Homo sapiens: one gene and its partner. The protein of the gene in region 1 purifies or fractionates together with the protein of each later gene. This does not show direct contact. Each region holds a gene or a part of one and is shown on either strand. Other genes may lie near its edges.

What was found.
Region 2: the proteins of GBA2 (region 1) and RDH13 purify together in Homo sapiens (affinity purification with mass spectrometry; one large-scale study listed by BioGRID and IntAct). This does not show direct contact.

What each region holds. Positions count from the first base shown.
Region 1 is NC_000009.12:35,739,020-35,742,828, reverse strand, and holds part of GBA2 (non-lysosomal glucosylceramidase), read left to right. Parts: intron 1-920; coding exon of another isoform or gene 921-938; coding exon 939-1,157; intron 1,158-1,764; coding exon 1,765-2,004; intron 2,005-2,200; coding exon 2,201-2,303; intron 2,304-2,466; coding exon 2,467-2,620; intron 2,621-2,705; coding exon 2,706-2,831; intron 2,832-3,028; coding exon 3,029-3,201; intron 3,202-3,409; coding exon 3,410-3,514; intron 3,515-3,719; coding exon 3,720-3,809. UniProt on the Homo sapiens protein: Non-lysosomal glucosylceramidase that catalyzes the hydrolysis of glucosylceramides/GlcCers (such as beta-D-glucosyl-(1<->1')-N-acylsphing-4-enine) to free glucose and ceramides (such as N-acylsphing-4-enine).
Region 2 is NC_000019.10:55,045,914-55,049,722, reverse strand, and holds part of RDH13 (retinol dehydrogenase 13 isoform 1 precursor), read left to right. Parts: intron 1-959; coding exon 960-1,064; intron 1,065-1,181; coding exon 1,182-1,394; intron 1,395-1,465; exon of another isoform or gene 1,466-1,677; intron 1,678-2,234; coding exon 2,235-2,336; exon of another isoform or gene 2,337-2,618; intron 2,619-3,809. UniProt on the Homo sapiens protein: Retinol dehydrogenase with a clear preference for NADP. Oxidizes all-trans-retinol, but seems to reduce all-trans-retinal with much higher efficiency. Has no activity toward steroids.

The DNA of each region.
Region 1 (3,809 bases):
AGGGATATTAATCCCTCATAGCTCCTACCCTCCAAGAGCTAAAACTTTTTTTGAGAAAATAAGACTTAGGGGAAATGGAGACTGTGAGACCACATCAGTGCTAAAAGGAGAGGGGTGGATAGTATACTGTGGAAAAAGGGACGGTGCTGCAGATTTCGCTCATTCCCTCCACATACATGCCAACTCTGAAGAAGGGTGCATCAGTGAATTAAAAAATGTCCCTACCCTCAGAAGAATCCATACAGCAGTCAGGGACACAGAATGGTCAGTCAATACATTATAACATAATACACCAAATGCTAGAATAGAAGGGGAGGGGGGCACACATAATGACTCACTGCTGGAAGAAGTAGAGGAGGAAGAGATGGCTTTTGACCTAGGCTTTGAAGGATGAGAGGTTTCACCAGATAGCGAACAAGCATGAGCACAGGCATGGAGGAGAGAATGTAGTGTGCTCAAGGAACAGTGAGTGTTTTTATATGAACAGACTATAGGTGCTTGAACAGGTGATGAGTCTGATGGGCAGGGAGAGGCCAGCTCAAGAAGGGCCTTGAAAGCCAGGCAAGAGTTGAGACTTTAGCCTGAGGGCCATGGGGAGTCACTGAAACATCCTAACCAAGGACTGACATATCTTGATTTGCCTGTGAGAAAGATCACTCTGCTACCCAGATGAAAAGGGCCACAGAAAAAGCAGGAGATTGGGCTTAAGTGAGGTGCTAACACCACCGTAGTGGAGAAGGGAGAGAAAGCTTGGGAGATAGATGGATGGGGAGGTAGCAGGACTTGGTGATTCACTGAGCCTGGGGGATGACTTGAAGCTGATGGTGCAGTGGTAACAGTTGCAGGCTCTGAAAGGGGAGGAGCTGATTTGAGGAGAGGGAAGACTTAGTCTGTGGTCCCTGTGGTTTACCCCGTTCCAGCCTATCTGCCCTCTTAAGTTCACAGTGTGCCTGCGTCGGGAAGGGCAGACTGTGTACCAGCAAGTCCTGTCCCTGGAGCGCCCAAGTGTCCTCCGCAGCTGGAACTGGGGCCTGTGTGGGTACTTTGCTTTCTACCATGCCCTCTATCCCCGAGCCTGGACTGTCTATCAGCTTCCTGGCCAGAATGTCACCCTCACCTGCCGTCAGATCACACCCATCTTGCCCCATGACTACCAGGTGAGGCCCCCACATCTGTATCTTCCATTGCCCTCCCTTCCCCAGGACCTGCCTCTGCTAGAAACTGCATGGCCTGCGAGGCGCGGTAGCTCACGCCTGTAATCCCAACACTTTGGGAGGCCAAGGCAGGCGGATCATGAGATCAGGAGATCGAGACCATCCTGGCTAACACGTGAAACCCCATATCTACTAAAAATACAAAAAAAAAAATTAGCTGGGCGTTGTGGCAGGCACCTGTAGTCCCAGCTACTCGGGAGGCTGAGGCAGGATAATGGTGTGAACCCGGGAGGCGGAGCTTGCAGTGAGCCGAGATTGCGCCACCGCACCCCCCAAAAAAAAAAAAAAAGAAACTGCATGGCCTGTGAAAGGGAGGTTGGAGCCATGAACATCACACTGGCTTCCCAGAACCACCGCCCAACTGGTTCTGGTCTTCTATATTCCCTGCTAGGCAGCTTGCCTGGGAATATGGGGAGATGCAAGTGGACAAAAGAAGAGTACACTGGGGAGTATTTGAGTCAGGTCCTCTGTGTGCCCAGGACTGATCCTAGCAGAGTGGGGTCAGGAGGCGCTCTACTGGGACCGTCTGAGTCTAATCTTCTGCCCCCAGGACAGCAGCCTGCCTGTAGGAGTCTTTGTGTGGGATGTGGAAAATGAAGGGGACGAAGCTCTAGATGTGTCCATCATGTTCTCCATGCGGAATGGACTGGGTGGTGGAGACGATGCCCCAGGGGGTTTGTGGAATGAGCCCTTCTGTCTGGAGCGTAGCGGGGAAACTGTCCGGGGGCTGCTCCTGCATCATCCAACCCTTCCAAACCCCTACACGATGGCTGTGGCTGCACGAGTCACGGTAAGGAAAGAGCCTGCCCTATACCTTAGCCCCTGAACCCCACCTCCACCCCAGCATGGTCTCTTCATCCACCCTCATCATACTCCTGTAAGCCCCTGGGCCTGGGAGGTTAAGAGTAAGTAAGAGGAGCTGGGGAGCTAGCCGGGACCCAGTGTACTCGTGGAGCCTGCCCTCACAGTCCCTGACCCCTTCACAGGCAGCTACCACGGTAACCCACATCACAGCCTTTGACCCTGACAGCACGGGGCAGCAGGTGTGGCAGGATCTACTTCAGGATGGACAGCTGGACTCTCCCACTGGTGATGGGGGGTCTGACTGGGAGATGGTGGGAAGAGAGGTTGTCCCTGTCTTGGGACCAGGGGTGGGAGGCCTGGTAATAAGTAGGCCTTGTTTCCATGTTAGGGATCCCTATCCCTGGGGCTGAAGGGGCTCCTGTCCTGAATTCTCTTGTGTTTCTCTCAGGCCAAAGCACCCCTACGCAGAAAGGAGTAGGCATTGCTGGAGCTGTGTGTGTTTCCAGCAAGTTGCGACCTCGAGGCCAGTGCCGCCTGGAGTTTTCACTGGCTTGGGACATGCCCAGGATCATGTTTGGAGCTAAAGGCCAAGTCCACTACAGGTGAGGGGACCAAGAAAGTGTAAGGATCCAGAGTGCTGGGGCTCTGACCTGGGGCTTGTGTTCATCCTTCCCCTTCCCACCCCAGGCGGTATACAAGGTTCTTTGGCCAGGATGGAGATGCAGCACCTGCCCTCAGCCACTATGCACTGTGCCGATACGCAGAGTGGGAAGAGAGGATCTCAGCTTGGCAGAGCCCGGTATTGGATGACAGGTGCCAGTGGGGCCCATTTCTTGCCTTTCTCCTGGGCACTCACTCCAAATGGGACTCCTCGATTTACTCTCCACCCACCAAAGTCAGTAGACTTGCACTGGGATTCATTTGATGATCCCACTCTGCTGAACCCCCAAATCCTTTCCATCTTGGGAGGTACATGTTCCTTAAACCATTTCCTCCTCCTCGCTTCCCAGATCACTGCCTGCCTGGTACAAATCTGCGCTGTTCAATGAACTATACTTCCTGGCTGATGGAGGCACAGTGTGGCTGGAAGTTCTTGAGGACTCCCTACCAGAGGAGCTGGGCAGAAACATGTGTCACCTCCGCCCCACCCTACGGGACTACGGTCGATTTGGCTACCTTGAGGGTACAGGATGCTGGTGGGCTGGGATATGGCAGGCCATCCCCAAGTCAGGATGATGGATTTGCCTACCCCAGGGTATTGGTTAGGATGAGGGGGTGTTGGGTGTGGACTAGTAACAATGCCCCACCTCTAAATCTAGAGGACAAGCTACAGAGGGGTTTGAAGGGGAAGCAGGAATTCTGGCAACAGTGTGTCTCATTCATTCCTCCAGGCCAGGAGTACCGCATGTACAACACATATGATGTCCACTTTTATGCTTCCTTTGCCCTCATCATGCTCTGGCCCAAACTTGAGCTCAGCCTACAGTATGACATGGGTGAGGATCCCTTTTGTGCCGCTTCTGCCCTCTTGGCTCCCCATACCCCCGAACTTCTGTGGTCCCTCAGATTGTCTCTTCTTTCCCTTCCCTTCATACGTATCTGCATGCTGCTTACTGGTTCCCCACTGCAGTCACACACATAGCTGTGTGCCCCTCCTCAGGCATGCCCATTCCCTGCCTCCCTTCTGTGTCTCTCCCCCAGCTCTGGCCACTCTCAGGGAGGACCTGACACGGCGACGGTACCTGATGAGTGGGGTGATGGCACCTGTGAAAAGGAGGAACGTCATCCCCC
Region 2 (3,809 bases), on another chromosome or scaffold:
CTGCCTCCTGGTTTCAAGCGATTTTCCCGCCTCAGCCTCCTGAGTAGCTGGGATTACAGGTGCATGCCACCACGCCTGGCTAATTTTGTATTTTTAGTAAAGACGCGGTTTCTCCATGTTGGCCAGGCTGGTCTCAAACTCCTGACCTCAGGTGATCTGCCCACCTCGGCCTCCCAAAGTGCTGGGATTACAGGCGTGAGCCACTGTGCCCGGCCAGGTCTGTGAGGTTTTAAACCACCTGTCTGTGGCACTTTGTTACGGAACCCGAGCTGAGTGGTACAGGGAGGAAGGCCCTGTGGTTCAGCGCATTTTACAGCTGAGGAAACTGAGGCTGCAGTCTCCATCTGTGTGTCCTTTGGTTGCTTGTATGAGTGAGGTGGCAGGTTTGGGAATGAAACCACGCCTGCGGTGCCGGGGCTCCCACCGGTAACCTCCCGTTTTTGGCCTCGGGGCTCCGGCAGGAAGGAGTCCCAAGGCTTAGATGGAGGTGCGGAGGGCGTGTGAGTGTCCTGGAGCTGCTGTAACAATGTACTGCAAACCCAGTGGCTTACACCCTCAGACGTGCATTCCCTCACGGTTCCGGAAGCCGGCAGTCTGAATCGCGGTGTCCCTGTGGCTGTGACCTGTGAGACGGGCCATAATCCTCCCAGCCTCTTCCACTTCCAGCGGGGGCGGCCCACCCTCACCTTGGAGCTGTGCCTCTCCGGTCTTTGCCTCTGTCCACACATGGCCTTCTCCCCATGTGTCTCTGTCTCTGTTTTCCCTTCCTATAAGGACACCAGTCATTGGATTAGGGCTCACCCTAATGACCGCATCCTGACATGGCCACTTCGGCACAGACCCTGTTTCCGGCACAGGCCACATTCACAGGTTGTGGGAGCACAGGAGTGTTTCTGCTGGTGCATCAGGCTGGGGTCTGTCCTCACCGGGATGTCTCCTCCTCCACCCCTCTCTTCCAGAGGAGGAGCGAGTGGACATTCTAATCAACAACGCGGGTGTGATGCGGTGCCCCCACTGGACCACCGAGGACGGCTTCGAGATGCAGTTTGGCGTTAACCACCTGGGTGAGGCCTGGGCAGGGGCTGCACCATGGGTTCAAGCGATCCTCCCCCGTCGTCCTCCCAAAGTGCTGGGATTTTAGGTGTGAGTCAAAAGTGACCTTTTCATCATCCTTAATCCAGGTCACTTTCTCTTGACAAACTTGCTGCTGGACAAGCTGAAAGCCTCAGCCCCTTCGCGGATCATCAACCTCTCGTCCCTGGCCCATGTTGCTGGGCACATAGACTTTGACGACTTGAACTGGCAGACGAGGAAGTATAACACCAAAGCCGCCTACTGCCAGAGCAAGCTCGCCATCGTCCTCTTCACCAAGGAGCTGAGCCGGCGGCTGCAAGGTACGGGGGCGCTAGGCTCGGCCTCCCTCTTGCTTTACTCTGAGCCTAGAGCGGCCTTTCCATGATCCTAGGCTGATGGGAGGCCAAACGGTGGATCCAGAACAGAGTCAGCAAAAGTAGAGCATGTGGACCACGCTGCCCGCTTCTGGTGCCTGAAGCAGACATCACTAATCGATCGTTCTTCTGAGGATTGTCTGTTCATCCCAGGTGGTCTAGTCTGCCTGGATCAGATGTCCTTCCCTGCTGCTGTTGGGCAGGCAGCTCAGCCTTTTGGCTCCAGCCAGTGAGTCTCAACCAGGGGCAGTTTTGACCCGCAGTTGTCAATGCCTGGAAACACAGTGATCACAGCTGGCTTGGGGAGAGATTGCTCTGGGCATCTGGAGGGTAAAGGCCCAGATGCTCTCAATGTCCTACAGCGCACGGGATGGCCCCTCACTCCTCCCAACCCACAGCATCCACAGTGCTGAGATTGAGAAATCTGTGCTAGGCCTTTGCTTCTGAAAGACGGTCTGTGGACCAGCGGTGCCAGCCCCACTGGGAGCTGGTCAGAGTTACAGTATCTTAGGTCCCACCGCCACGCACCGATGCAGGCTCCCGGGGTAAGCTCAGCGTTCTGGGTTTATGAAGCCCTCCAGGAAAGCTCGGCTCCCAGCAGCCATGTGGCAGAGCCGCTCCGCAAGATAAGACCACTTCACTAAGATTCCAGAGCAAGAGGGACGATGGGGTTTGAGTGCAGGAAGCAGCCTGGTGCCCGGAAGCCCCACAGCTGGGTGTGGGCTGCCACAGCCTCCCAGGTGAGGCTGGACCCCTCCCTCAGTCTTCTCTTTCTTTCTTCCCCAGGCTCTGGTGTGACTGTCAACGCCCTGCACCCCGGCGTGGCCAGGACAGAGCTGGGCAGACACACGGGCATCCATGGCTCCACCTTCTCCAGCACCACACTCGGTGAGTCCCCTCCCAGCCTGGGGTCTCCACGTGGAGCCCTCCACCCCTGCTTTCTCAGCCCAGGGCCCAGGACCCTCCCTCAGAGACCGTCCCTGAGGCCTCATGCCTGCTCCTCGCCTACGTCTTCTGAGGCACAGAGCACAGGTCCCTTTCCTCCGTTGACCTGGCCTGCCAGCCTCTAACAGCCCCGGGAAGCAGGCAGAGCCCTGCTGGCGGATGAGAAAACCGTGTCTCAGAGGAAGAGGCCGTGGAGCTGACGCCTGGAGTCAGGCTGTACTCAGGGTAACTCCAGCTTCACCCCAAACCAGCTGCACCTCCTGGGGAAGAGCTGTTACCCCTCTGAGCCTGTTTCTTCATCTGCAGAGTGCAGGCCTTAATAGGACTCACCTCACAGTCACTGGGGGGGTTATACGAGACCTTCCTTGAAAGGGCCAGCACAGGACCCCGCCCAGAGAATAGGTGGAACAAACAGTTGGAGCTTTACTTACTTATTTTTGAGATGAAGTCTTGCTCTGTCGCCCAGGCTGGAGTACAATGGCATGATCTCCACTCACTGCAACTTCCACCTCCCAGGTTCAAGCGATTCTCCTGTCTCCAAGTAGCTGGGATTACAGGTGCACACCACCACACCCAGCTAGAGGTGGGGTTTCACCATATTGGTCAGGCTAGTCTCAAACTCCTGACCTCAGGTGATCCAACTGCCTCCCAAAGTGCTGGGATTACAGGTGTGAGCCACCACCCCCAGGCAGTTCATGCTTTATGACTAGTGTTTATAATCCTGAAAAACATGGAGTGGGTGATTGGTTGGCATCAAGAATCTTAACTTGGCGAGGCTAATAGCCACGCCTGTAATCCCAGCACTTTGGGAGGCTGTGGTGGGCGGATTACCTCAGGTCAGGAGTTCGAGACCAGCCTGGCCACCATGGTGAAACCCCGTCTCTACTAAAAATACAAAAATTAGCCAGGTGTGGTGGTGTGCACCTGTAGTCCCAGCTACTCAGGAGGCTGAGGCAGGAGAATCGCTTGAACCCGGGAGGCAGAGGTTGCAGTGAGCTGAGATCACACCACTGCACTCCAGCCTGGGTGACAGAGCAAGACACCAGGTCTCAATAAATAAATAAATAAATGTCTTTTTTTTTTTGAGACGGAGTTTTGCTCGTCACCCAGGCTGGAGTGCAGTGGCACAATCTTGGCTCACTCCAACCTCTGCCTCCTCGGTTCAAGTGATTCTCCTGTCTCAGCCTCCCAAAGTAGCTGAGATTGCAGGCGCCCACCACCACACCCAGCTAAGTTTTTATTTTTAGTTGAGACAGGGTTTCACACGTTGGCCAGGCTGGTCTTGAACTCCTGACCTCAGGTGATCCACCTGCCTCAGCCTCCCAAAGTGCTGGGATTACAGGCGTGAGTCACCACGCCCAGCCCTTTTTTTTTTTTTTTTTTGAGACGAAGTCTTGCTATTGTCACCCAGGCTGG